Linked DNA regions of Homo sapiens. The protein of the gene in region 1 purifies or fractionates together with the protein of each later gene. This does not show direct contact. Each region holds a gene or a part of one and is shown in the gene's direction. Other genes may lie near its edges.

What was found.
Region 2: the proteins of PHYHIPL (region 1) and OPA3 purify together in Homo sapiens (affinity purification with mass spectrometry; one large-scale study listed by BioGRID and IntAct). This does not show direct contact.
Region 3: the proteins of PHYHIPL (region 1) and ETFB purify together in Homo sapiens (co-immunoprecipitation; one large-scale study listed by IntAct). This does not show direct contact.
Region 4: the proteins of PHYHIPL (region 1) and STARD7 purify together in Homo sapiens (affinity purification with mass spectrometry; one large-scale study listed by BioGRID and IntAct). This does not show direct contact.
Region 5: the proteins of PHYHIPL (region 1) and MCCC1 purify together in Homo sapiens (co-immunoprecipitation; one large-scale study listed by IntAct). This does not show direct contact.
Region 6: the proteins of PHYHIPL (region 1) and putative glutamine amidotransferase-like class 1 domain-containing protein 3B, mitochondrial purify together in Homo sapiens (affinity purification with mass spectrometry, with the first as the bait; one large-scale study listed by BioGRID). This does not show direct contact.
Region 7: the proteins of PHYHIPL (region 1) and ALDH1L1 purify together in Homo sapiens (co-immunoprecipitation; one large-scale study listed by IntAct). This does not show direct contact.

What each region holds. Positions count from the first base shown.
Region 1 is NC_000010.11:59,175,427-59,179,442, forward strand, and holds the start of PHYHIPL (phytanoyl-CoA hydroxylase-interacting protein-like), read left to right. Parts: upstream 1-1,216; 5' UTR 1,217-1,427; coding exon 1,428-1,533; intron 1,534-1,737; exon of another isoform or gene 1,738-2,164; coding exon of another isoform or gene 2,165-2,192; intron 2,193-4,016. UniProt on the Homo sapiens protein: May play a role in the development of the central system.
Region 2 is NC_000019.10:45,553,803-45,557,302, reverse strand, and holds part of OPA3 (optic atrophy 3 protein), read left to right. Parts: intron 1-2,653; exon of another isoform or gene 2,654-2,793; intron 2,794-3,391; coding exon 3,392-3,500. UniProt on the Homo sapiens protein: May play some role in mitochondrial processes.
Region 3 is NC_000019.10:51,344,669-51,347,028, reverse strand, and holds the end of ETFB (electron transfer flavoprotein subunit beta), read left to right. Parts: coding exon 1-129; intron 130-1,647; coding exon 1,648-1,818; 3' UTR 1,819-1,860; downstream 1,861-2,360. UniProt on the Homo sapiens protein: Heterodimeric electron transfer flavoprotein that accepts electrons from several mitochondrial dehydrogenases, including acyl-CoA dehydrogenases, glutaryl-CoA and sarcosine dehydrogenase.
Region 4 is NC_000002.12:96,184,828-96,188,327, reverse strand, and holds the end of STARD7 (stAR-related lipid transfer protein 7, mitochondrial isoform 1 precursor), read left to right. Parts: intron 1-1,026; coding exon 1,027-1,111; intron 1,112-1,413; coding exon 1,414-1,598; 3' UTR 1,599-3,469; downstream 3,470-3,500. UniProt on the Homo sapiens protein: May play a protective role in mucosal tissues by preventing exaggerated allergic responses.
Region 5 is NC_000003.12:183,014,718-183,017,107, reverse strand, and holds the end of MCCC1 (methylcrotonoyl-CoA carboxylase subunit alpha, mitochondrial isoform 1 precursor), read left to right. Parts: intron 1-1,541; coding exon 1,542-1,670; 3' UTR 1,671-1,890; downstream 1,891-2,390.
Region 6 is NC_000021.9:5,125,570-5,129,667, reverse strand, and holds the start of putative glutamine amidotransferase-like class 1 domain-containing protein 3B, mitochondrial, read left to right. Parts: upstream 1-1,298; 5' UTR 1,299-1,313; coding exon 1,314-1,454; intron 1,455-1,717; coding exon 1,718-1,770; intron 1,771-3,675; coding exon 3,676-3,789; intron 3,790-4,098.
Region 7 is NC_000003.12:126,174,087-126,177,586, reverse strand, and holds part of ALDH1L1 (cytosolic 10-formyltetrahydrofolate dehydrogenase), read left to right. Parts: intron 1-3,500. UniProt on the Homo sapiens protein: Cytosolic 10-formyltetrahydrofolate dehydrogenase that catalyzes the NADP(+)-dependent conversion of 10-formyltetrahydrofolate to tetrahydrofolate and carbon dioxide.

The sequences.
Region 1 (4,016 bases):
GCAGCATACAGACATCTATGTGTAAACTGTTACTTGTTGGTTAACATTTATGTTTGAAATGGAAAATCAATAAAAGGGAACTTATATTAATTTATAAGCACATTAAGAAAAGAGGGGACACTATTTTTGATCCCAAGATAGCAACAAAACTAAAAACTTTTCCAAAGAAGCAAACGGGAACAGAGGTCAATAGGCTGTGACCTCTATTTTATGTTTAAAACGTTTGCACATCCACTAAGTGCACTGCAGAATCTTAAATGCAATTAAAATCAATGGGCATACAAGTTATAGAGTAGCTTGAGGAAGCACAAGTCAATCTTCATTAGCTATTGTAGCAAAGATTCCTTCCAAATCCATGGGAGCAGGTGCTGTTTATACTCCCTTCATTGACGCCCAGAACAATGGCATAGGGTGAGCATTGAATACTTATTTGCTACGCGCATGAATGAATGAAGCTACGCTGCGAAGGCAGACTGCGTGGCTGCTGGTCCCGTGGCTGCTGGCCCCGCAGCATGTCTGCCGCCTTTTCAGCAGGCTTGCTGCATCTCCTCATTCCCTCACCTTTCTGGCAGTAAGGAGTTCCCACGTTTGCCCCGCTTCAGTGTCGTGGACTGGCAAAATGCTGTCTCTAAACCCCTCCACGCCTCAGGTAATCCGCTCATTTCTCACACAGACGCAGCTGTTTCCGAGGAATGTCCGGCCGAGCCCGCAGGGTGCGGGCAGCGAGTATCCTGGGACCTTCAGGGGAGGAGGTGGCTCCCACACCCCAATACCGTACAGAGAGTCCGAAGAGTCCGGGCCCTTATTTTTCCAATTCTTGGTAAACAACAAACATGCTCGCCCTCGCCTCCCCGTGCAGACGCCTCAGGGCCAACTCGGGCTTCGCCAGGCACCGAGAGCAGACAGAAGACGCCAAATGGCTATCACCAGGAGAGAGGGCGAGGCAGCCGCGCGGCGTATAGCGCTCGCCCTTCCCGCGCGCTCGGTCGCCCGACGCCTCACGCGCGAGGTTGCCTTGGCAGTGGCTGGAGGGCAGGTGGGGGCGCGTGCGCGCAGAAGGGCGGGGGAGGGACCACCGCGCGCCAGCAGGTGGGCGCGTTCTCCCGCGCGCGTGCGCGCGTCGAAGCCCTATACATCACGTTCCCCGAGAGCAGCGTCCCCTCCCCGCCGGGAGCGCGCGCCTCCCATCCTCGCGCCGGGTCCTGCTCGGTCTCTCAGAGCCGCACACTCCGCGGAGCTCCTGCCACAGCCGTCGCCTTCGCGGCGGCTCTCCAGCCCCGCGCCTCAGCCTCGGCGCCGCATCACCGCGTCCCAGGCCTCCTTCCCTCCCTCTGCCACTCCCCCTCCCTTTCCCGCTCTTCTTGCCCACCCGGCCGGCAGAGAGAGCCTGGATACGAAGCAGGCGGGCTTCAGAGTGGGTTGGAAAAATGGAGGTGCCGCGCCTGGATCATGCCCTCAACAGCCCCACCAGCCCCTGTGAGGAGGTGATCAAAAACCTCAGCCTGGAGGCCATTCAGCTGTGCGACCGGGACGGTAAGAGCGGCCGGGACCGCGAGGAAAGGGACAGAGTTCGCGCCGAGGCGCCGGGGCCACTCTGGCTCCGCCGACGCCGCTCGCCAGGGCGGCAGGGTCTTTTGTTGTCCCCTCTGTGCAAATAAATGCAGATGTGGGTTACCCTCCGCCCACCGCCCTCCCCTCACCCCAGAAACAAAAGGACCCCGGGGCTCGCGCCTTGGCGCGGAAAGTAGCCGTCCACAACCGTGGCGCCCTTCGCCGCCTTCGCCCGCCTGGCCCGGACGAGGGCGACGTTCCCGCTCGCGGCTCCTGCCCCGACGAGGCGTTTCCGATCTTTGCCGCAGTCCGGATTTCCTGGGTCTCTGGGCACTGAAGGGGAAATGCCCTCGGGATGTTTCTAGCAACCCCCTTCCCCCAACACACACACACTAGTTGGCATTCTCTTCCAGAAACTTATCATTTTCTTTTTTAAACCTCCCATCCTCAGACTCCCCAAATTAACAAGTCTTTTTAGCCTCTTGGATTGGGATTAGGATGACAGTTTTTCAGTGAGGGCGCAGAAAAACAGTGCATTTCAGCACCAAGGACAGACACAATCTTCATGGTTCCTGGGCTCTGAGTCAGACTGTCGAAAATATTGGCCTAATATATGTGCTGTGATTCAGACTTTGTGGCGAGTACGTACCATTGCGTGTTGATATTATATCGTTTATTCTGTTGTTGAAGTTGGCAGGCTCCTGTGGAAGGAAATTGATTGAATACAGGTCTGAGCGTTGAAGACATAAGCTAGTGCTGTGTGCGGTGTGGTTAGTTACAGTGCTTCTGGGTTAGCTGGACTAGTTAGAGTCTGCTACTTTAGTAATGTGGTACAAAACTTCATTTGTAAAGAAATCATTTGATTAGTAATTGGTTGGCCGAATAATTGTAAAATTCTACATCTGACAAAGGAAACACAGTTCACATGTTGTTAAGAGGGCCCCAAATACTTTTGACTGTAAATGAAATTAATGTTTAACTGTATATAGAGGTAATGATTGTAAAACATGTCTTTAACCAAAGTTATGTACAGATACTAATACGCTCACAGTAAGGTCATAAAATTTATCAGCCTAATCCAAATAGGGAGCAGAGGTCTTGTTTCCAAAGTCATTTAAATGGTAATCACTTGGTTACGCATTGCTATTCAGCACGTTTATATCAAGCAAGCACCGAATTTGTTTATTACTAAATTTTATATTTATTAATATAAATTTATATTTAATAATTTTGAAACCAGAATTCAAACTTTTTGAAACCAAAACCACTTTAATTTCTGATACAGGTGTAGTATATGAATAAATAAATACGTTTGCAAAGACAGCTTGTATTTCCTTTATTCTTAGACTGTTTTAGTCACCATGGTAGTAAGTGCACATATTTATGGTATCTAAAAACATTTATCATTTTGGTATTCCATATGTAAGCTTGCATGATTATAGACTGTAAAGATTATTTTTAATAACGCATAGGAAGTCATTTGGATTTTAGTTTAGACTTTTATGAAATGACTTTTTGTAATGTAACCATTGCAAGTTGTAAATATTTTTATTTTCTTAGGGTTGAGAGAAACACAAGACTAATAAAAGTAGACTTCATTTTTATTTATTGCAATGATAAAGCAAAAGCTCATTCTTGTACTCAATGGAATTAGGCATTCATTGTTGCTCTTCAGAACCCAGTAATCTCAATACTTAAAACCGCATTTACCACGTGTTTCAAAGATATTAGGGAAAATTTAAACTTTTTAATGAAGTTCACAGAGTTAAGAGAGTGCAAAAAATAATGCTGTATTTACTGTGATCCCCTAGAGGAGTAGCTATTTTATTCTGGTATTATTTTTTAGTTGTTTCTTTTCAAATTAGGAATCCCACAAAATGAACAAATTATGTAACATTTAATTTTGGGGAGGGTGCTGGCACTAAGTAACATCTATGAAAATTACTATTTGCAGACTTCCAAGTAATTTACATAGACTAATTAAATAGGGTTTTATTTTATAAAATAGTATACACCAACAAATACAAAGAGCTAACTCTTCTACTAGAAGATGTATAAAATTTGGAAATACTTTGTTTAGAGATGTTGTTAAATGCTTAACTTATTTTGTTATCCTATCTTACATGTCAATTCCAAAAATATTAACTTGGTTGGCTTCAAAGGGATAATTTAGGGGGAATAATGTCGTTTGTTTTTAATAGAACAGCATATGAAATGTTGCATTAAATTTGTCAAACAGACCTTACTTAGCATCATTTTGTATTGAGAGATTTTCAGCTAGTTGCTTTTTACTCCCTTTGCTTCCCTCCTTTCACTTTCTTTCCACTCAAGTCTCGTTATTTTACTTCTGTAACTATGTAACATAGAAAAGGATGTGGCAGAATATGGGACAGAAGATCTATTTTGTGTTTAAGTACCTAATAAGAGCTATATTTCATAATTTATGATAGAATACATTTATTTTG
Region 2 (3,500 bases), on another chromosome or scaffold:
CCTGAAAGCCCATGCCTGCGTGCACACACGCGTGCACACACACACACACCCTCTTGATTTGATTTCCTGTGGCCTGGGTATGTGCCCACTCCCATTGGCACACCTAGACCCACCTGCTGGCCCAGATCCCCATGCTTGGTCTGCACTGAGACACTTGCATTTCCACGCTGGGAACCTCACCCAGGAAGGCTAGAGGATCTGGAACCCTCACCCCTCACCACTCTCTGGCCACTGTGCTAGGTGTCCCTGACATGAAGGAGGCAGTGACAGTTACGGGCCCAGCTCTGGGCCACCACCAGGTCTGGCGAGTGTCATTGTCAGGATGATGCTGTCCTTCCTGTGTTACAGAGGGGCCTTGGGGCAGGCTGTCATTGCTCAGGCAGCAGGTGGCGGAGCCCCGGGGGGACCCCAGATCAGCCTGACCCTAAGACCTCAGTGTGGGAGGGGTCTCCACAGCCTGGACCCCAGGAACCCACAAGCCCAGGGCCTAAGTCACAGCTGTAACAGTAACTGCAGCAGCTGACAGTGACAGTGACAGTGACTTCTCGGGCCCTAAGCTTGCACCTCAGGTCTTCCCTCCAGCTCCAGCAGAGCTCCCCAAGCCTTCCTGCCACCCCACCCCTTTGAAGATGAAAAATGTGTAGTGGCTGGGCTCAGTGGCTGTCTCCTGTCGTCCCAGTACTTTGGGAGGCTGAGGCAGGATGATTGCTTGAGCCCAGGAGTTCAAGACCTGCTTTGGCAACATAGCAAGACCCAGTCTCTACCAAAAAACAATTTAAAAACAGCCAGGCATGGTGGGGCATCTATAGTTCTAGCGGCTCCAGAGGCTGAGGCAGGAGAATTGCTTGAGTCTAGGTGTTCGAGGTTGCAGTGAACTGTGATGGAGCCGCTGCCTTCCATCCTGGACCACAGAGTGAGAGCCCATCTGTTAAATAAATAAATAAATAAGATGGAATATGGCAAGACCCCATCTCTACCCAAAAAAAATAAAATTAGCCAGGCATGGTGGCATGCACCTGTTGTCCTAGCTACTCAGGAGGCTGAGGTGGGAAGATGACTCGAGCCTGGGAGGCAGAGGTTGCAGTGAGCTGAGATTGTTCCACAGCACTCCAGCCTGGGCAACAGAACGAGATCCTGTCTCAGAAAAAGAAAAAATAAATTGTGTGCCCTCTAGTGCATTTTCAAGTTGACAAGTAAAACTTTTCTTCATTAACCTTAAGTAGTTGTGAAGGATGGAATTTCTGGTTCTGGTGTGTTATGATACTGACATGTTCAAACAGCTGGTGCATCCTTCCCTTCATATTTATTGCAGTTCGCATACAATAATGATTTGATGCCTACCAATGTCTGGTTTAAAGATATATATATATAGGCCAGGCATAGTGGCTCACGATTGCAATCCCAGCACTTTGGGAGGCCGAGGCAGCCAGATCACTTGAGCCCAGGAGTTCAAGACCAGCCTAGGCAACATACTGATAAACCCCATCTCTATTTTAAAAAAAATACAAAAATGACTAGGCACGGTGGCTCACGCCTGTAATCCCAACACTTTGGGAGGCCGAGGTGGGTGGATCACGAGGTCAGGAGATCGAGACCATCCTGGCTAACACGGTGAAACCCCATCTCTACTAAAAATATAAAAAAATTAGCTGGGCGTGGTAGCGGGCGCCTGTAGTCCCAGCTACTCAGGAGGCTGAGGCAGGACAATGGTGTGAACCCGGGTGGCGGAGCTTGCAGTGAGCCGAGATCGCGCCACTGCACTCCAGCCTGGGCGACAGAGTGTGACTCCATCTCAAAAAAAAAAAAAATATTAGCCAGGCATACCTGTAGTCCCAGTTACTCAAGGGACTGAGGTGGGAGGATCATTTGAGCCTGGAAGGTCGAGGCTGCAGTGAGCCATGATTGCGCCACTACACTCCAGCCGGGGCGACAAAGCAAGACCCCGTCTCGAAAATAATACAAATAAAAACAAGCTCTTCTTTTTCAGTCAGAAATTTCACATGGTTTCTTTTTGTTCATGTACTTTTGTATTTACAGTCCACATACCCACAGAATTCCATCTAGTGATTTATATGTCGGCAACCAAAATACATACAGAAATTTACATGTTAATTTCCTGTGACCATAAGGTTCTAAATGCTAAGTTATTTTCTTCTGGATTGAGTTAATTTTGAAATTATTAGTGCGCAGTTACTTTAAAATGTTCATCTTTTGGATGGACATGGTGGCTCATGGCTGTAATCCCAGCAGTTTGAGAGGCCAACGCAGGTGGATCACGAGGTCAGATGATCGAGACCAGCCTGGCCAACGTGGTGAAACCCCTTCTCTACTAAAAATACGAAAAATTAGACGGGCATGGTGGCGCGTGCCTGTAGTCCCAGCTACTCAGGAGACTGAGGCAGGGGAATTGCTTGAACCTGGGAGGAGGAGGTTGCAGTGAGCCAAGACTGTGCCACTGCACTCCAGCCTGGCAACAGAGTGAGACTCCGTCTCTAAAACAACAACAACAAAAAGTTCATCTTTTATACATTTTCATGAATAATTACTAAACCTTAAAAGTAAAAGGAGATGTTGCAAATGAGTCTGCAAAGGCACCACACAAGGGTTCCCTCTGTGGTTTCATGTGCCCTTGGATGAATATTAATTGTTGCAGGAGTGAGTCAGGATGCAGCATCAATTCTGCATTGGTTTTAAAGACTCAAGTGCTGAGAACCTTCCTTCATAAAGAAGCAGCTAGGCAAGGAAGGAGTTTTTGTTCCAGCAGCACCACTCACCTCTTGAGCTCCCACCAAGGTATGTGCCCAAAACCTCACTGTGAAGAGCTCGCAGCTCTTAGCTGCACCTTCAGGGCTGATGAAATTCTAGGATTGGAGCCATCAGACTTGCAAAAATGATTGATTATTACAAGTGTATCTAAGTGTTCAGAGGCACTTAGCATCGACTGCCACCTTAAGCTGCCCTTTGGAGCCAGGAGCCCCCCTCTCCCCCATCTGTAGCCCCAACTTTGCATTTTGGGAAAATAAGGCAAGAAAGGAGGTTGGTCTTTCTCCTGGGAAGTGGGTGGGGCGACAGTGCCAGGGCAGGACAGCCAGGATGGCAGTGGCTTAAGGGAGGAACACAGGGAACTAAGCATCTGGCAACTGGACCTTTACACCGTCCATGAACTTGGCGCTGTGGAAGCTCCTGGTGTCCCTCTTGGGGCGCGGCCCCTCAAGTCCGAGGACCTCCCTTCTGGGGCAGTGTTTCTTATTCCTGGCTGCTCGCTAGAATCATCTGGTCTTTTAAAAGACCCCTGGGTTACCCAGGCTAGGTGACTGCATTCCCTGGGTGAGAGGGGTGGGGCTTGCAGGGGGCTCCCAGAGCGCAGCCTGACCCCTCTCTTCCCCCGCAGTGTATCACTGGGTGGAGATGCGGACCAAGATGCGCATCATGGGCTTCCGGGGCACGGTCATCAAGCCGCTGAACGAGGAGGCGGCAGCTGAGCTGGGCGCAGAGCTGCT
Region 3 (2,360 bases), on another chromosome or scaffold:
GGGGACAAGTTGAAAGTGGAGCGGGAGATCGATGGGGGCCTGGAGACCCTGCGCCTGAAGCTGCCAGCTGTGGTGACAGCTGACCTGAGGCTCAACGAGCCCCGCTACGCCACGCTGCCCAACATCATGGTGAGCCCCTGGCCAGCGGGCACTGAGGGCCTGGGGGTGGCAAGCACATTGCCAGCCCAGTGCCCCCCGGTGGTCGCACGTGGGGAGGGAAGGATCCAAAGGAGGTCTCGTGCACAGGAAGCCGTCACCTGGAGTTTGGCTGATAGAGAGAGTTTGCTGGGTCATCTCTGCCAATACTGAGAGTTCATGGGGGCTGCTTTGGCTAGCAGGGAGGGCTTGCTGGTATCTAGGCCAGTAGAAAGCCTTCGCTGGGCAGCAGAAGGTGTTCCCTTTGTCATTCCAGCCAGTGGAACAAGTTCACTGGGTCATCTAGGTTCATTAGGGAGGGTCCCCTTGGTAATTTTTGCCAATGTGAAGTTACCATGTAGATCATCTTAGTTAACTAGGAAGGGTGCATGGGGTCTCTTGGCTAACAGGTAGAGTTCACTAATCATCATGGCCAGTAGATGGGTTCGCTGGGTCATCTTGGCCAATATTAACAGTTTAGTGGGTCATCTCCGCCAATAGAGAATATTCATCTCAGCCAACAGGGAGGGTTCACTGGATCATCTCAACTAATGGGGAGGGTTCAATGAGTCATTTCAGCCATTACAGAGTGTTCACTACATCATCTCAGCCTATAGGGAGGGTTCAGCGCATCATCTCAGCCTATAGGGAGGGTTCAGCGCATCATCTCAACCTATAGGGAGGGTTCTGCGCATCATCTCAGTCTATAGGGAGGGTTCAGCACATCATCTCAGTCTATAGGGAGGGTTCAGCGCATCATCTCAACCTATAGGGAGGGTTCTGCGCATCATCTCAGCCTATAGGGAGGGTTCAGCGCATCATCTCAGTCTATAGGCAGGGTTCAGCGCATCATCTCAGCCTATAGGGAGGGTTCAGCGCATCATCTCAGCCTATAGGGAGGGTTCAGCGCATCATCTCAGCCTATAGGGAGGGTTCTGCGCATCATCTCAGTCTATAGGGAGGGTTCAGCGCATCATCTCAGCCTATAGGGAGGGTTCAGCGCATCATCTCAGCCTATAGGGAGGGTTCAGCGCATCATCTCAGCCTATAGGGAGGGTTCAGCGCATCATCTCAGCCTATAGGGAGGGTTCAGCGCATCATCTCAGCCTATAGGGAGGGTTCAGCGCATCATCTCAGTCTATAGGGAGGGTTCAGTGCATCATCTCAGCCTATTGGGAGCCTTCAGCATGCCATCTCAACCAAAAGTCCACTGAGTCATTACTACCAAAAGGATGGGTTTGCCACTCTGTTGCAGCCAGTGAAGGGCTTCCTGATTTGGTTACCTAAAGGAGGACTGCTGCAGTAGTTGGGCCTCCCAGGGCCTCCTAGCCAGCAGGAGTTGTCCACACCAGGTGTGGCCCTGTGAGAAGTTTCGCGTGTCCTGGCCAGTGGGTGGGTCCAGAGGGTTCAGCCCATGGGACTGGTCTGCAGGCCTGGCACCCATGGGAAGGAGGTGGCAGGAAGGGTGGCAGGAGTTCCACAGCCCTGTGAACAATGGCTTCCCATGTGCAGAAAGCCAAGAAGAAGAAGATCGAGGTGATCAAGCCTGGGGACCTGGGTGTGGACCTGACCTCCAAGCTCTCTGTGATCAGTGTGGAGGACCCGCCCCAGCGCACGGCCGGCGTCAAGGTGGAGACCACTGAGGACCTGGTGGCCAAGCTGAAGGAGATTGGGCGGATTTGAGCCCCTCCCAGAGATGGCAATAAAACTGACTCTCAACATCTATCTCTGTTAACTTATTTCCTAGAGACCCATTATTTGGTTCATTCAACATTTACTTGAGTCTTTTGTGTGCCAGGCCCTGTGGATCCAGTCCCTGCCCATGAGGAGCCTCTGTATTGATGCGGGGGACAATGAGGACAAAGGCAGCTGTAATTCGGGGTGAAGTATGCTAGACGTGGAGGCACACTGGGCCCTTGGGAACCCAACTGGGGGACCTGGCCTGGCCCAGCCGGTGGGGTCAGAGATTTCCCAGGGAGATGACTTCCAAGTTGAGTGTTGGAACACAAATATCAGTGAGGTGGGTGAGAAGAAGGGCTTTTATCCACGATGTTTGCAGGACACTCATTCTCTCTTGTGTCCCCAGTCTCAGCAGGGACACAGGAGAGAATGAGGCCAGAAGCTGTGGTTCTGGTGTGAGACAGACAAGCCACAGAGAATCAAAACTTAGCGTTGCAATGAACAGCCTGGGTCTACAGTCAGGTTAATTTTTTTTTAATTATGTT
Region 4 (3,500 bases), on another chromosome or scaffold:
CTCCATCCTGGGCAACAAGAACGAAACTCTGTCTCAAAAAAAAAAAAAAAAAAAAAAAAAAGTCTTGGTCTGTCACCCAGGCTGGAGTACAGTGGCTCAATCTGTGCTCACTGCAACCTCTGCCTCCCGGTTCAAACGATTCTCCTGCCTCAGACTCCCAAGTAACTGGGATTACAGGCGTGTACCACCACGCCCAGCTAATTTTTTAACTTTCAGTAGAGATGGGATTTCACCATGTTGGCCAGGCTGGTCTCGAACTCTGGTCCTCAAGTAATCTGCCTGCCTTGGGCTCCCAAAGTGCTGGGATTATAAGGCATGAGCCACCACGCCCAGCCAACACCCAATTTATTTATTTATTTATTTATTTTTTGAGACGGAGTCTCGCTCTGTTTCCCAGGCTGGAATGCAGTGGCTAGATCTTGGCTCACTGCAACCTCTGCCTCCCGGGTTCAAGCAATTCTTGTGCCTCAGCCTCCCGAGTAGCTGGGACTACAGGTGTGTGCCAGTATGGCCGGTTAATTTTTGTATTTTTGGTAGAGATGGGGTTTCACCATGTTGGCCAGGCTTGTCTTGAACTCTTGACCTCAGGTGATCCGCCTGCCTCGGCCTCCCAAAGTGCTGGGATTGTAGGCATGAGCCACCATGCCTGGCCTAACACCCAAAATTTTTATTGGGAGCTGGTCACTTAGTACCGTCTGCTTAGCACATACCAGAATTCCAAACCCTGCAAAGCAAAGCCTGTGTTCAGCATAAACCACGTTGTTTGCATAGTCTATGCACAGGGAGCCACCCATATCAGCTAACTGTTGACTGGGAGCGAAGTTGGCCAAGGGTCAACATTGCAAGGAGACCTTTCTATAGATAGTAGTCTCTCAGGCCTTCAGTGTTAACTCTTTTCTGCACAGGGTGAAAAAAGAAATGACACTCCCTGCTCCAGAATCAGATCATAGTTATTCTATGGTACTGGATATGGAGGTTGTGGTTGGTGATTCAGGGATCTTCATTTTTGCTGTTTTTCTTTTCCAGAATGGCTTTGACTACTTACTAACATACAGTGACAATCCCCAAACGGTGTTTCCTCGCTACTGTGTTAGTTGGATGGTTTCCAGTGGTAAGTAAGGGCAAGTATACAGGGCCTGGAACCTGGGTTGAGCATTTTGTTTTTCTCTATTTCCTAATGGGGAAATAAAACGTCTCTTCTGGTTCTTCTTTTTTTTTTTTTTCTGAGACAGAGTTTTCACAACCCATGCTTTGGGAACACATTCCGGGAGGCAGCTCTTATTCACAGGCTAGTCAGGTTGTGATCTTTATAAGGAAGAACTAGTTCCCTACCATCAAAGAAATAGGGTCTTCTCATTTTGAGCCTACTGTTGGTTTGTATGTCAGCTTAACCTGATTCTCGTCTCCTGACAGGCATGCCAGATTTCCTGGAGAAGCTGCACATGGCCACTCTGAAAGCCAAGAATATGGAGATTAAAGTAAAGGACTACATCTCAGCTAAGCCTCTGGAAATGAGTAGTGAAGCCAAGGCCACCAGCCAGTCCTCTGAGCGAAAGAACGAGGGCAGCTGTGGCCCTGCTCGGATTGAGTATGCTTGACAGGCTTTGGGATAAGAAGGGACAAGGTGCTTCTAGCCCTGTCTCAGTCCGTTATCACTCTGCTGTAGAAGGGGGACATGCCACATGTATTAGAAGGCATCTGCTGTAACTTCCAGTGCAAGATAATTCAATAACTGATGTCCCATTTCATTCAGAGCCCTTATTGCTCTTATCAAAACAGAAGAAGGCTACATTTGTGGGAGTGTTGTCATATTCTCAGGCCAACTGTTTTGAAATTCGGTATCTCACTGAGCTAATCTGGAACAAACCTCTCACCTCAGGCCAGAAGGGGATGACCTCCATTTGCTTCTCTGAGTAGTTTCCTCTGCTGACATTCCAAATCCCACCATCGATTGTGCAGCGCTTTGGATTTCCTTCAGTTCTCCAGGTCCACCTGGAAAGTATAGTTGGCCAGTTGAGTCTCTCAAATGAGGGGCTACTGGGAGTGCTCTTGGTAACAATCATGATGTGAATGGGTGTGAACGATACTTGGCTATGTTAAGTGCCTTGTCCGCACCTTGCTTTTATCTCTAGAGACATGAAGTTATTATTAATTTTTTTTTTTTTTAAGTAGAGATGGAGTTTCACTCTGTTTCCCAGGCTGGTCTTGAACTCCTGGGCCATGCCTGGCCAGGGACATGAATTTGTACAAAGAAATTTCCCTCCCTGCCTGCACAATATCACCCATTGACTCACCTTATCCAAAGCAAGTTTCCTGTGAATCGGCCAGTTCTTCTATATTCATTGGATCATTGCCTCCTTCCTAACCTTCCCCATTTACCAAGAACACTGGGAGACTAATCCTTTTAGATAGTAGCTTTTTGATGCTCAAAACATCACATTTAAATTTAGTTTAAAAATTTTTTAACTTTTGTGTCAAATAGGAGTTGAGGAATTGAGCAGGATTCTACCCTAGTCCGATTGTATAGAAAACACCATTTTGATTCAGGTATTATTTTTCATATTTCAGGTTTGACTTGTTCTTTTCAGAAGGCTAAAGTCAGAGGAATGGGGGCTGGGCCACTCCCTTGGAGCTCTCAGATCTACAGACAAGCTGTGTGAATGCATAGATGTAATCTTGTCTCAAATACTAATACAGTGGAGATTTGGTTTATGTTACCATTAAGTTCCTCTAAAAAGTTTTTCTTCCTCTCTTCAGAGCCAAAATAAAAGTGAACTACACTGTTCAGATAAGGTCACAATCTGATGCTGTCAGTTTGACCGAGCTGGTTTTGCTTATGGTCATGCTGCAATTTGTTAGAATAATAGGGATCAAGTTTTAAATCCTCCTCCTTCCCTTTTTTCTGGAGTCTTGAGGGCCAGAGTTTTTGTTTTTGTTTTTGTTTTTGTTTTCCTGCTTGCTACTGTTTTGTGGTGTTGAAAAGTGGTTTAAACCTGAGACTAACTTAAACACTTCCTTGACCTTCTTGTTGCCTGTTCATTTTTGTGCCAAGGAAGTAGCTGCCCCAGTGTATGTCTTGCCTTCTCCGCGTCATTGTTGGAAGAGGAGAGATGCATCGAGCAGTCCCAGCTGCTTTTCATTTATTACTTCTTCTTTCCAGGACCTGACAGAAGTCAGGGAAGAGTCCCTGGGTTATGTCCAAACTTAGCACCTGCAATTGTTGGGATGTGGATGGATGTGTGCATAAGAGAGAGAGAGAATATGTGTGTGTGTGTGTGCGTCTGCGAGCGCACACACATGCACAAGTGCGAAGGAGTTGCGGTTGCTCCATGTTCTGACTTAGGGCAATTTGATTCTGCACTTGGGGTCTGTCTGTACAGTTACTCATGTCATTGTAATGATTTCACTCCTAACTGTGACATTTTTATCAAATGTGTGAATAAATACATAAAGATTGGTACAAAAAAAAGTGTTTGTCTTTGGACAAATGGTGGTGGAAA
Region 5 (2,390 bases), on another chromosome or scaffold:
TAGAAAAGAGTTTTACTTTAACTTTGTGAAATTGCACCTGTCATTTCTGATTCTGAAATTAATGAAATTATCAATAGCTTGGAATCAGGCGATAATCCAACTGAATGTTAACTGTTGGTATTTTCTAAGATAATCCAACTGAATGTTAACTGTTGGTGTTTCTGGAATGTTAACTGTTGGTATTTTCTAATGTTAACTGTTGGTATTATCTTGGTTCTAAGGCCGAACCAAGGATGCCAGGCATCAGTTTCAAAGTGAAAACCGCAATCAAATTAAATTAGCTGTTTAGGTTTTTAGATGGTTCAAATGGTAGGTCAGTGATTCTTAGCCCTGGCTGAATATTGCAGACAGTCCTCAACTTACAATGGTTCAATTAAGGATTTTTCAGCTTGACAATGGTGCAAAACCATACACGTTGAATATGCTCCTCAGCTTACATTGGATTTATCTGGACCTGACCCCATCGTAAGTCAAGGAGCATGTGTACAGTCACCTGGGGAGATTTGAAAAAATTCTTCCCCAGACCCATTGAATTGCAATCTCCAGGAGTAGAGCCCAAGGATCAATACTTTTGAAAGGCTGGGCGCAGTGGCTCATGCCTGTAATCCCAGCACTTTGGGAGGCAGAGGCAGGCGGATCATTTGAGGTCAGGAGTTCACGACCAGCTTGGCCAACATGGTGAGACCCCATCTCTATTAAAAATACAAAAATTAGCCAGGCATGGTGGTGCATGCCTGTAATCCCAGCTACTCAGGAGGCTGAGGCAGGAGAATTGCTTGAACCTGGGAGGCAGAGGTTGCAGTGAGCCGAGATCTTGCCACTGCACTCCAGCCTGGGTGACAGAGCGAGACTCCGTCTCAATTTAAAAAAACAAACAACAAGGCCAGGCGCAGTGGCTCACGCTTGTAATCCCAGCACTTTGGGAGGCCGAGGTGGGTGGATCATGAGGTCAGGAGTTCAAGACCAGCCTGGCCAACATAGTGAAACCCCGTCTTTACTAAAAATACAAAAATTAGCCAGGTGTGGTGGCACACACCTGTAGTCCCAGTTACTTGGGAGGCTGAGGTGGGAGAACCGCTTGAACCCGGGAGGCAGAGGTTACAGTGAGCTGAGACCATGCCGTTGCACTCCAGCCTGGGTGACAGAGTGAGACTCCGTCTCAACAGCAACAACAACAAAAAACAAAAAAAAAAAAACAAAAGCAAGCAAACAAAAAACTGTTGAAAGCTTCCTAGGTGCAATTCTCATGTGAAGCTCAAGTTGAGAACTGCGAGCTACACCAGAGCTTCCCAGTCATATCGTTGAAAGGTTACTGCTGTGTCCCAGTGTTCATTCCTCTCAACTTGTTACTGTTCTCCCTGTGTGCTGTGATGTTAAAAATAAAAACAACAACAACAACAAAGCGTTGGAAAGCACCGAGAGATGACAAAACATCAAAGTTGGCTACAGTTTTCATTTTTGGTCTCCCTTTCTTGACTTGGTGTATACTCAGTCCTCATTAGTATTGCAGCTATCATTTGTCCTGTCATGTGTCTCTGCAGCATACCATAAAGTCTCCAAAGGATGGCACAGTAAAGAAAGTGTTCTACAGAGAAGGTGCTCAGGCCAACAGACACACTCCTTTAGTCGAGTTTGAGGAGGAAGAATCAGACAAAAGGGAATCGGAATAAACTCCAGCAAGGAAATGGCCAGTTAAGTAGTGTCTTCTCTCTCCACCAAAAAGAGGAAGTGCCTCCAGCTTTTCTGGGGGTCTCATAAAGAGCAGTTTTACTAAATGATTGTATGCTTATGCTGAACACCTTTCATATTGGAGAATCATGCATTTGGGTCACTAATTATCTCAAAATATTTCATACTAATAAAGTTGAATTATTTTTTATTGGAAGCCAATGTTTGTTTCTGCCTCAAATTTTTTACAAGGTAGTCTCTTTTAGGAAGGGGGGAAGAGAAAAGGACATTTAATTAAATGAATTACTTTCCAGTTGCTGTTATGATGAAAATGAGCAGTAATATGTTTCAGAGACAGGTGCCCTGGAGTTCAACAACTAAGGTTTTGTCTGGCCAAAAAGCAACTTGCTAGGTAGTTTAAAAGACATGGATATTAGTCGGGCGCGGTGGCTCACGCCTGTAATCCCAGCACTTTGGGAGGCCAAGGCGGGCAGATCACTTGAGTTCAGGAGTTCGAGACCAGTCTGGCCAATATAGTGAAACCCGTCTCCACAAAAAATAAGCTGGGTGTAGTGGTGAACATCTGTAGTCCCAGCAACTTGGGAGGCTGAGGCAGGAGAATCGCTTGAACCTGGGAGGCAGAGGTTGCAGTAAGTCGAGACCGCACCACTGCACTCTAGCCTGGGTGACAGAGCGAGACTCTATCTCAAAACAAATACATA
Region 6 (4,098 bases), on another chromosome or scaffold:
CTAGTTCCCCACTATCTTGCAAGGATTGGCAGTAAAGTCCTAGTGATGGACAACGCGGCAGTGGGGAAAGTGACAGCCGTGGCTAGATCATCAGATGTGTCTGTAGAATCCGGTGTGTCCCTGTGAACATCCGCCAGCAGTAACCATTCACATTATTTCAAAAACCTGCATTATTAGGTTGAAAATGGGTAAATCGGGGAAAAAGCCAGCACTTATCCAGCTATTCCTCTGTGAACTAACCCATGCATAACAAACAGATTTTTTTAATGGAAGAATTCCAGCTAGGACCCGAGCAGCTGGGATCTTCACACTGACCGTCCATGCTGTGAACGTAAAAAACAAAAACAAAAAAACAAACCCAAACAGTGCCCGGGAATGGTGGCTCACGCCTGTAATCCCAGCACTTTGGGAGTCCGAGGCGGGCAGATCACCTGAGCTCGGGAGTTCAAGACCAGCCAGACCAACATGGAGAAACCCCGTCTCTACTAAAAATACAAAATTAGCCTGGCGTGGTGGCGCATGCCTGTAGTCCCAGCTACTTGGGAGGCTGAGGCAGAAGAGTCGCTTGAACCTGGGAGGCGGAGGTTGCGTTGAGCCGACTTCGCGCCATTGCACTCCAGCCCGGGCAACAAGAGGGAAACTCCGTCTCAAAAAAAAAAAAAAAAAAACCCAAACAGAATCGGCGGCTCACTTGCCCCCAGACTAACCCAGATCAAGCCCCTGGGTGGAACTGCAGTTTCCAGGATACAACATCCCGGGGTCAGTAAAACCCGGAGGGGTCGCTCCGTGGGAGCCGGAGCCGCGAGGAGACAGTCATGGAAGCGGAGGGGTAGTCCTGACCCCGCGTGGGTCCTGACGCCGAGATTAAGACGAGTGGCCATTTAGGAGGATGTGGACCCTGGACGCTCGTGGTGAGTTAAGGATGAGACGGAGGTAAGGTAAGAAGCGCCGGACTGAGCCGCCCCGAGGCAGCCTTGCTCTGCGGATGGCGGAAAGGGTGCGCCGCCTGTGGAGGCGTCCGATGGGGGCGGGGCTGGGGACCCCGGGAGTCACCAGCATCCCTCAGCCTCGAGCACGAGCCCTCAGCCACCACCGGAAGGAAGACAGGGTTCCCGGAACTCTATTCGGAGGCTCTGCGCAGGCGCGGCCCCCGCCCACCGGCGCACTCACTGGATAGGGCTGAGACGGGGGCGGGTCTTGGCTCCGCCCCGAAGGCTGCGCAGGCGCAGTCCCGACGAGCAACGCGTTTGTAGAGGGGTGGGTGCGCACGCTCTGTCCCTGCGTGACCTTCCGACCCCGCTGTCCTCACCGCAATGGCGGCTGTGAGGGCCCTGGTGGCCTCGAGGCTCGCTGCGGCATCTGCATTCACGTCCCTGTCCCCCGGCGGTCGGACGCCTTCCCAGCGCGCAGCCCTTCACCTCTCCGTGCCGCGCCCCGCGGCCAGGGTCGCGCTGGTGAGTGGACGGAGGGGGTGAGGTCAGCTCCCGCCTCCAGAGATCAGCCTTCGCTGTTCTCTGCCCAAGGTCGGCCCCTCTTCCTAGGTCCGCTCCCGCCGCCCCACGTCGGCTCCTTCACCCCAAGTCAGCTCCTGCGGCCCAGGTCGGCCCCATTTTCCCGGGTCAGCGCCCGCGGCCCAGGTCGGCCCCTTTCCCCCCAGTCAACTCCCGCCGCCCAGGTCGGCCCCTTTCCCCCGGGTCAGCTCCCGCTCCTCTCGCAGGTGCTGTCTGGATGCGGAGTCTACGATGGGACCGAGATCCACGAGGCCTCGGCGTAAGTCCTCAGGGGCAGCTGGTCCTCCACCCCGGGGGCCTCGAGAAGGCCTCTCCACCAGTGAAGTTTACTCTTTTTTGAACAGCTTAGAGAAAGCATGTATTTTATTTTATTTTTACTTTTTGTCTTTTGAGACAGCGCCCAGTCTGGAGTGCAATGGCGCGATCTTGGCTCACTGCGGCCTCCGCCTCCTGGGTTCAAGCGATTCTCCTGCCTCAGCCTTCCGAGTAGCTGGGACTACAAGCATGCACCACCACACCCAACTAATTTGTGTATTTTTGGTAGATACGGAGTTTCACCATGTTGGCCAGGCTGGTCTCAAACTCCTGACCTCAAGTGATCCTCCCGCTTTGGCCTCCCAAAGTGCTGGGATTACAGGCATGAGCCACTGCACCCGGCCGAGAGAGCTTGTATTTTAAATACCCTATTCTTGGCTAAAAAAAAGCAAAAACGACTTGCAAAACCCAGGGAGACGCTAAGAAAGAACAGTTTTTAAGTGTCGCTTATACTGTCACCTAGAGCCTAGAAATGACTTAGCATTTCACTTGAGTGTTTTTCAGGACACACACATTTTGAAAACACTGAGATCACACTCACCCGTGTTTTGCAAATGTTTCTGACGCATGGGAAGTAATTCCCATTCATTCAGTTCTCAACATCATTTTAACAGTTGCGTGGTATTTCTGGGTCCTAGACAGGTTACTGTTTACGTAACTGGTCAGCTGTTGCTGAGTGCTTGGTGGCCTGATTTCCTGTGCTACTGGAAATGACTGCAGGCCGAACCAGTAGGGCAGGAGGCCACCACGCGTGCCAGGTACCTGTAGTTCCCATGTGGTTCAGGGTGAACTGGAGAGGGGAGAGCTGGGTGGTGGCGAAAGGGGTGTCAGGCCATGGAGAGTGGCCTGAGGCTGGTGGCTTTGTGGGTGGCCCACCTTGGCTGGTTGGAGTTGGCACTAGGCAGAGTGAGCTGGGGGAAAGGGCCAGGATGTGTTTCATGATTTGGCCTTGGTGGGATAGAAAATAGCCCCAGAATAGCTTGAGCTCTCCCAGGCAGAACGGCAGGGTCTTGTGTCTGGGGTGTCTGGGTGGATTTCTTATGGGTAGCGGAACCCAAGTGCCAGGGCCAGGTGCTGACCTCTCCCTCTGGCAAGTCACTGCACTTCATGCCTCGGTTTCCTCCTCCACGTAAGGGGCAGTGAGGGCTTAGTGTGTGGGTGGGCTTAGCCACCTATCTCCTGTTGGCACTGGGAGTTGCGGATGCCAGCGTGAGCCCCCATAATGTCAGCTGTTGTCCCCAGGAGGAGCTTCTGTTGCCCTTGCCCTTGGGGAGATGGAGCTGCCTGGCCTGTGGTGTTGTCCTGGGGTCTCTTGTGTCTCTCCCACCATCTGTGATGGGAAAGTTGAGGGAGACTAGAAATTGAACTAAGTAGTGACCGAAAGCCCCGTCACACCGTCTGTGCACGTGGCACTCTGAGCACACTGCTGCTTCTCACTCTTGGTGCTTGCAGCAAGCAACTGGAGGAGGGCAGCCAGGCCCTGGGTGTAGGTAGAGCACTCAGCAGCCGGGGACCCGCACGCCTCCAGGCTGTGCCCTCAGTGGAGTCACCCGGCCCCCATACCCCAGTTTGCAAAGGGAGCTGTTGGGACCAGCTGATCTCCATAGCCCACTTCTGAGGGTTTGTCATAGTCGTAACCCACCAACCGACAGTGAATTGGAATGGGGGTGTGGGGGACGTTTGGCTTGGTATGGAACCAACTGTAACTTTTTGCAGAGCAAGTAAGATATTAATATACATTAGGAATTTGCTCCTGGTACTTAGCTAAAATCCTGTTTTTAAAAATGTGTTAACACAAATCTGAGTGGGGCACGTTTTGAAGAGTTGTCTCTGGTTTTCCCCCGTGCAGGATCCTGGTGCACCTGAGCCGTGGAGGGGCTGAAGTCCAGATCTTTGCTCCTGACGTCCCTCAGATGCACGTGATTGACCACACCAAGGGGCAGCCGTCCGAAGGCGAGAGCAGGTGTGGGGGTGGGATTGGAACTTGCTTCTTGTCTACCTCCCACGGTGCAGCCTTTTTTTGCTGGCTTAGCTTAAACCAAGTCTTGTGTGCAAATGAACGTCCTTCTGAGCAGCTGTGCTCGGGCTGTTCCGGAAGTAATGCTGCCAAGGCTCAGGAGTGCCTTCCTTCCAGTACTCACAGAAGGACTGAAAATGGCGACCGGATCGCTTCCCACTGAGTCAGGCTGCTCATACCTTGGTCTTAAGCAAAGGTGGTGGTTCTCAGCTTGGTCGCCCACCTTCTTCCCCTGTCTGGGCTCCAGATCTGTTT
Region 7 (3,500 bases), on another chromosome or scaffold:
CTCCTGTGCTCTACCCATCCACCCCCCAACCCCCCTACCTATCCCTGGCAACCACTGGTTACTGCCTTTGTAGTTTTGCCTTTTCCAGAATGTCATATAGTATGTATGAATCATATGGTATATAGCCTTTCCAGACTGGCTTCTTTCGCTTAGCAAAATGCATTTAAGCATCCTCCATGTCTTTCTGTGACTTGGTAACCCATTTCTTTTTATCATTGACTAATATTCTGTTGTATGGATGTGGAGGTACCACAGTTTATTTCTCCATTCACATACTACAGGATATCTTGGTTGCTTCCAAGTTTTAGCAGTGAATAAAGCTGCTATCAACATTTGTGTGCAGGTTTTTGTGTGGACATTAGTTTTCTTCTCCTTTGAGTAAATATCAAGAGCGATTGATGGATCACATGGTAAAAGTATGTTTCGTGTTATAAAAAACTACCAAACCTTTTTCCATAGTGGTGGCATAATTTTTCATTTCTACCAGTAATAAATAAGAGTTCCTGTTGCTCCACAGCCTCATCAGCATTTGTTGTCAGTGCTCTTAATTTAACTCTTCTAATACGCATATAGTAGTATCTCATTGTTATATTTTAATTTGCAATCTGTAATGACTTACAGTGTTGAGCATCTTTTTAAATGCTTCTCTGCCATCTGTATATCTTCTTTTGTGAATGTCGGTTAATTTACTTGGCCCATTTTAAAATTGGGTTGTTTGTTTTACTGTTGAGTTTTAATAGTTCTTTGTATATTTTGGATAACAGTGCTTTACCAGATATGTCTTCTCTCCCCAACCATGGCTTGTCTTTTCATTCTCTTAACAGTGTCTTTTGCAGAGCAGAAGTTTTAAATTTTAATAAGGTCTAATGTACCATTTTTTTTCCTCCATGAATTGTGCTGTTGTTGTTGTATCTAAAAAGTCAAATCCAAGTTTTGGCAGTTACAAATAAAGATGCTGTAAACATCAGTGTACAGATATTTGTGTGATTTTTGTGCAATGCAGATTTTCTCCATTGTCTTGCCTTTGTCTCTTTGTCAAAGTTCAGTTGACTGTATTGATGTGAGTTTACTTCTGGGCTCTCTATTCTGTTCAATTGATCTATCTGACTATTCTTTTGCCAATACCGTACTGTCTTGATTACTGTAGCTTTATAGTAAAGTCTTGGGGACAGGCAGTATCGGTCCTCTAACTTCGTTCTCCTTCAATATTGTGTTGACTATCCCAGGTCTTTTGTCTCTCCAAATAAACTTGAGAATCAGTTTGTTGATATCCACAAATAACTGCTGGGGTTTTGATTGGGATTGCATTGAATCTATAGATAAAGTCGGAAAGAACTGACATCTGGACAGTATAGAGTTTCCCTACCCATGAACATGTACTATCTCTTCATTTATTTATACATATTTTTATGTTTTCATCAGTTATGGTTATTCTCACATAGATTTTGACCTATTTTAGGTTTATGTATAAATAATTCACTTTTTGGTGCTAATGTAAATGGTTTTGTGTTTTTAATCTCAAATTTCAATTGTTTATTGCTAGTATATAAGAAAGTAATCAATTTTTGTATATTAACCATGACTTTACATCCAGCAACTTTGGCAGAATAACTTATTATTTCCAGTTTTCTGTTGCTTTGTTGGCATTTTCCACATAGCCAATTATGTTTTTTGAGAACAAGAACAGTTTATTTCTTCCTTCCCAATCTGTAGACTTTTCATTTTCTTTTCTTTTCTAATTACATTAGCCAGCACTTCCAGTATAATGTTGACTAGGAAGGGTGAAAGGGAACATCCTTGCCTTATTTCTGATCTTAGGGGAAAAGCTTCTAGTTTCTCTCCATTAAGTATGATGTTAGCTGTAGGTTTTTCATAGATCTTCTTTATCAAGTTAAGTTCCCATTTATTACTAGCTTGCTGAAAGCTCTTATCATAAATGAATGTTAGATTCTTGTCAAATGCATTTTCTGGATCTATTGATGTGATCATATAATTCTTCCTTAGCCTATTCATGCGATGGATTACATTAATTGATTTTCAAATGTTTAACCTAGAATAAATCCCATGTGGTGGTTATGTATAATTCTTTTTAAACATTGTTGGATTCAATTGCTGATTTTTTTGAGGATTTTAACATCTATGTTTATGAGAAATATTGATCTGTTAGTTTCCTTTCTTGTAATGTTTCTGGTTTTGGTACCAGGGTAATTCTGACCCAAGAAAATTAGAGAATTTCCTCTACTTCTATTTTTTGAAAGAGATCATAGAGAATTGGCATAATTTCTTTCTTAAATGTTTAGTCATATTCATTAACCCTAGTGCTTTCTATTTTGGAAGGCTACTGGCTCCAGTTCTTTAATCAGTATAGGCCTATTCAGATTATCTATTTCTCTTTGTGTGAGTTTTGGAACGTTGTACTTTCAAGGGATTGTTTCATTTCATTTAACTTACCAAATTTGTTGATATAGAGTTGTTCATACTAGTATTTTATTATCCTTTTAATGACCGTAGGATCAGTATTGATGGCCCTTCTTTCATTTTTGATATTAGTAATTTGAGTCTTCTCTCTTTTTCTTCTTAGTTAACCTGGCTAGAGGTGTCTCAGTTTTATTCATCTTTTCAAGGAACCAGCTTTAGGTTTTGTTGATTTTCTCTATTGACAGCATGTTTTCAATTTCACAAGTTCTGCTGTAATTTTTATTATTTCCTTTCTTCTGTTTATTTTGGATTTAATTTGCTCTTCTTTTTCTAGTTTCCTAATTTGGAAACTTGCTTTTAGCTCTTTCTTCTTTAATAATATATGCATTCAGTGCTCTAAATTTCCCTCTAAACACTACTTTAGCAGCATCCCATAAATTTTGATGTTATATTTTCATTTTAATTTAGTTTGAAATATTTTAAATTTTTTCTTGAGAGTTATTCTTTGATTTGTTTACATGTTGTTTAGAAGTGTGTCATTTAGTTTCCATTTTTTTAATGTTTTTCAGATATCTTTCTGTTATTGATTTCTAGTGATTCTGTTGTGATCTCAGTAATCTCCATCATAGAAGTCATTGATATTTGTTGTTGTATGTTTTATGGCACAGAATGTGGTCTGTCTTGATGAATATTCCATGTGAACTTGAGAAGAATGTGTATTCTGTTGTTGTTGGGTGAAGTATTCTCTAAATGCCAATTAGATACACTTAATTGATGGTGCTGTTCAACTATGTCCTTACTGATTTCCAGCCTGCTGGATCTATCAGTTAGTGGGTACTGGCCAGGCACGGTGGCTTACGCCTGTAATACCAGCACTTTGGGAGGCCGAGGTGGGCAGATCACCTGAGGTCAGGAGTGCGAGACCAGCCTGACCAACATGGAGGCTCTACTAAAAATACAAAATTAGCCGGACGTGGTGGTGCATGCCTGTAATCCTAGCTACTCGGGCGGCTGAGGCAGGGGAATTGCTTGAACCCGGGAGGCGGAGGTTGCAGTGAGCCGAGATCGTGCCACTGCACTCC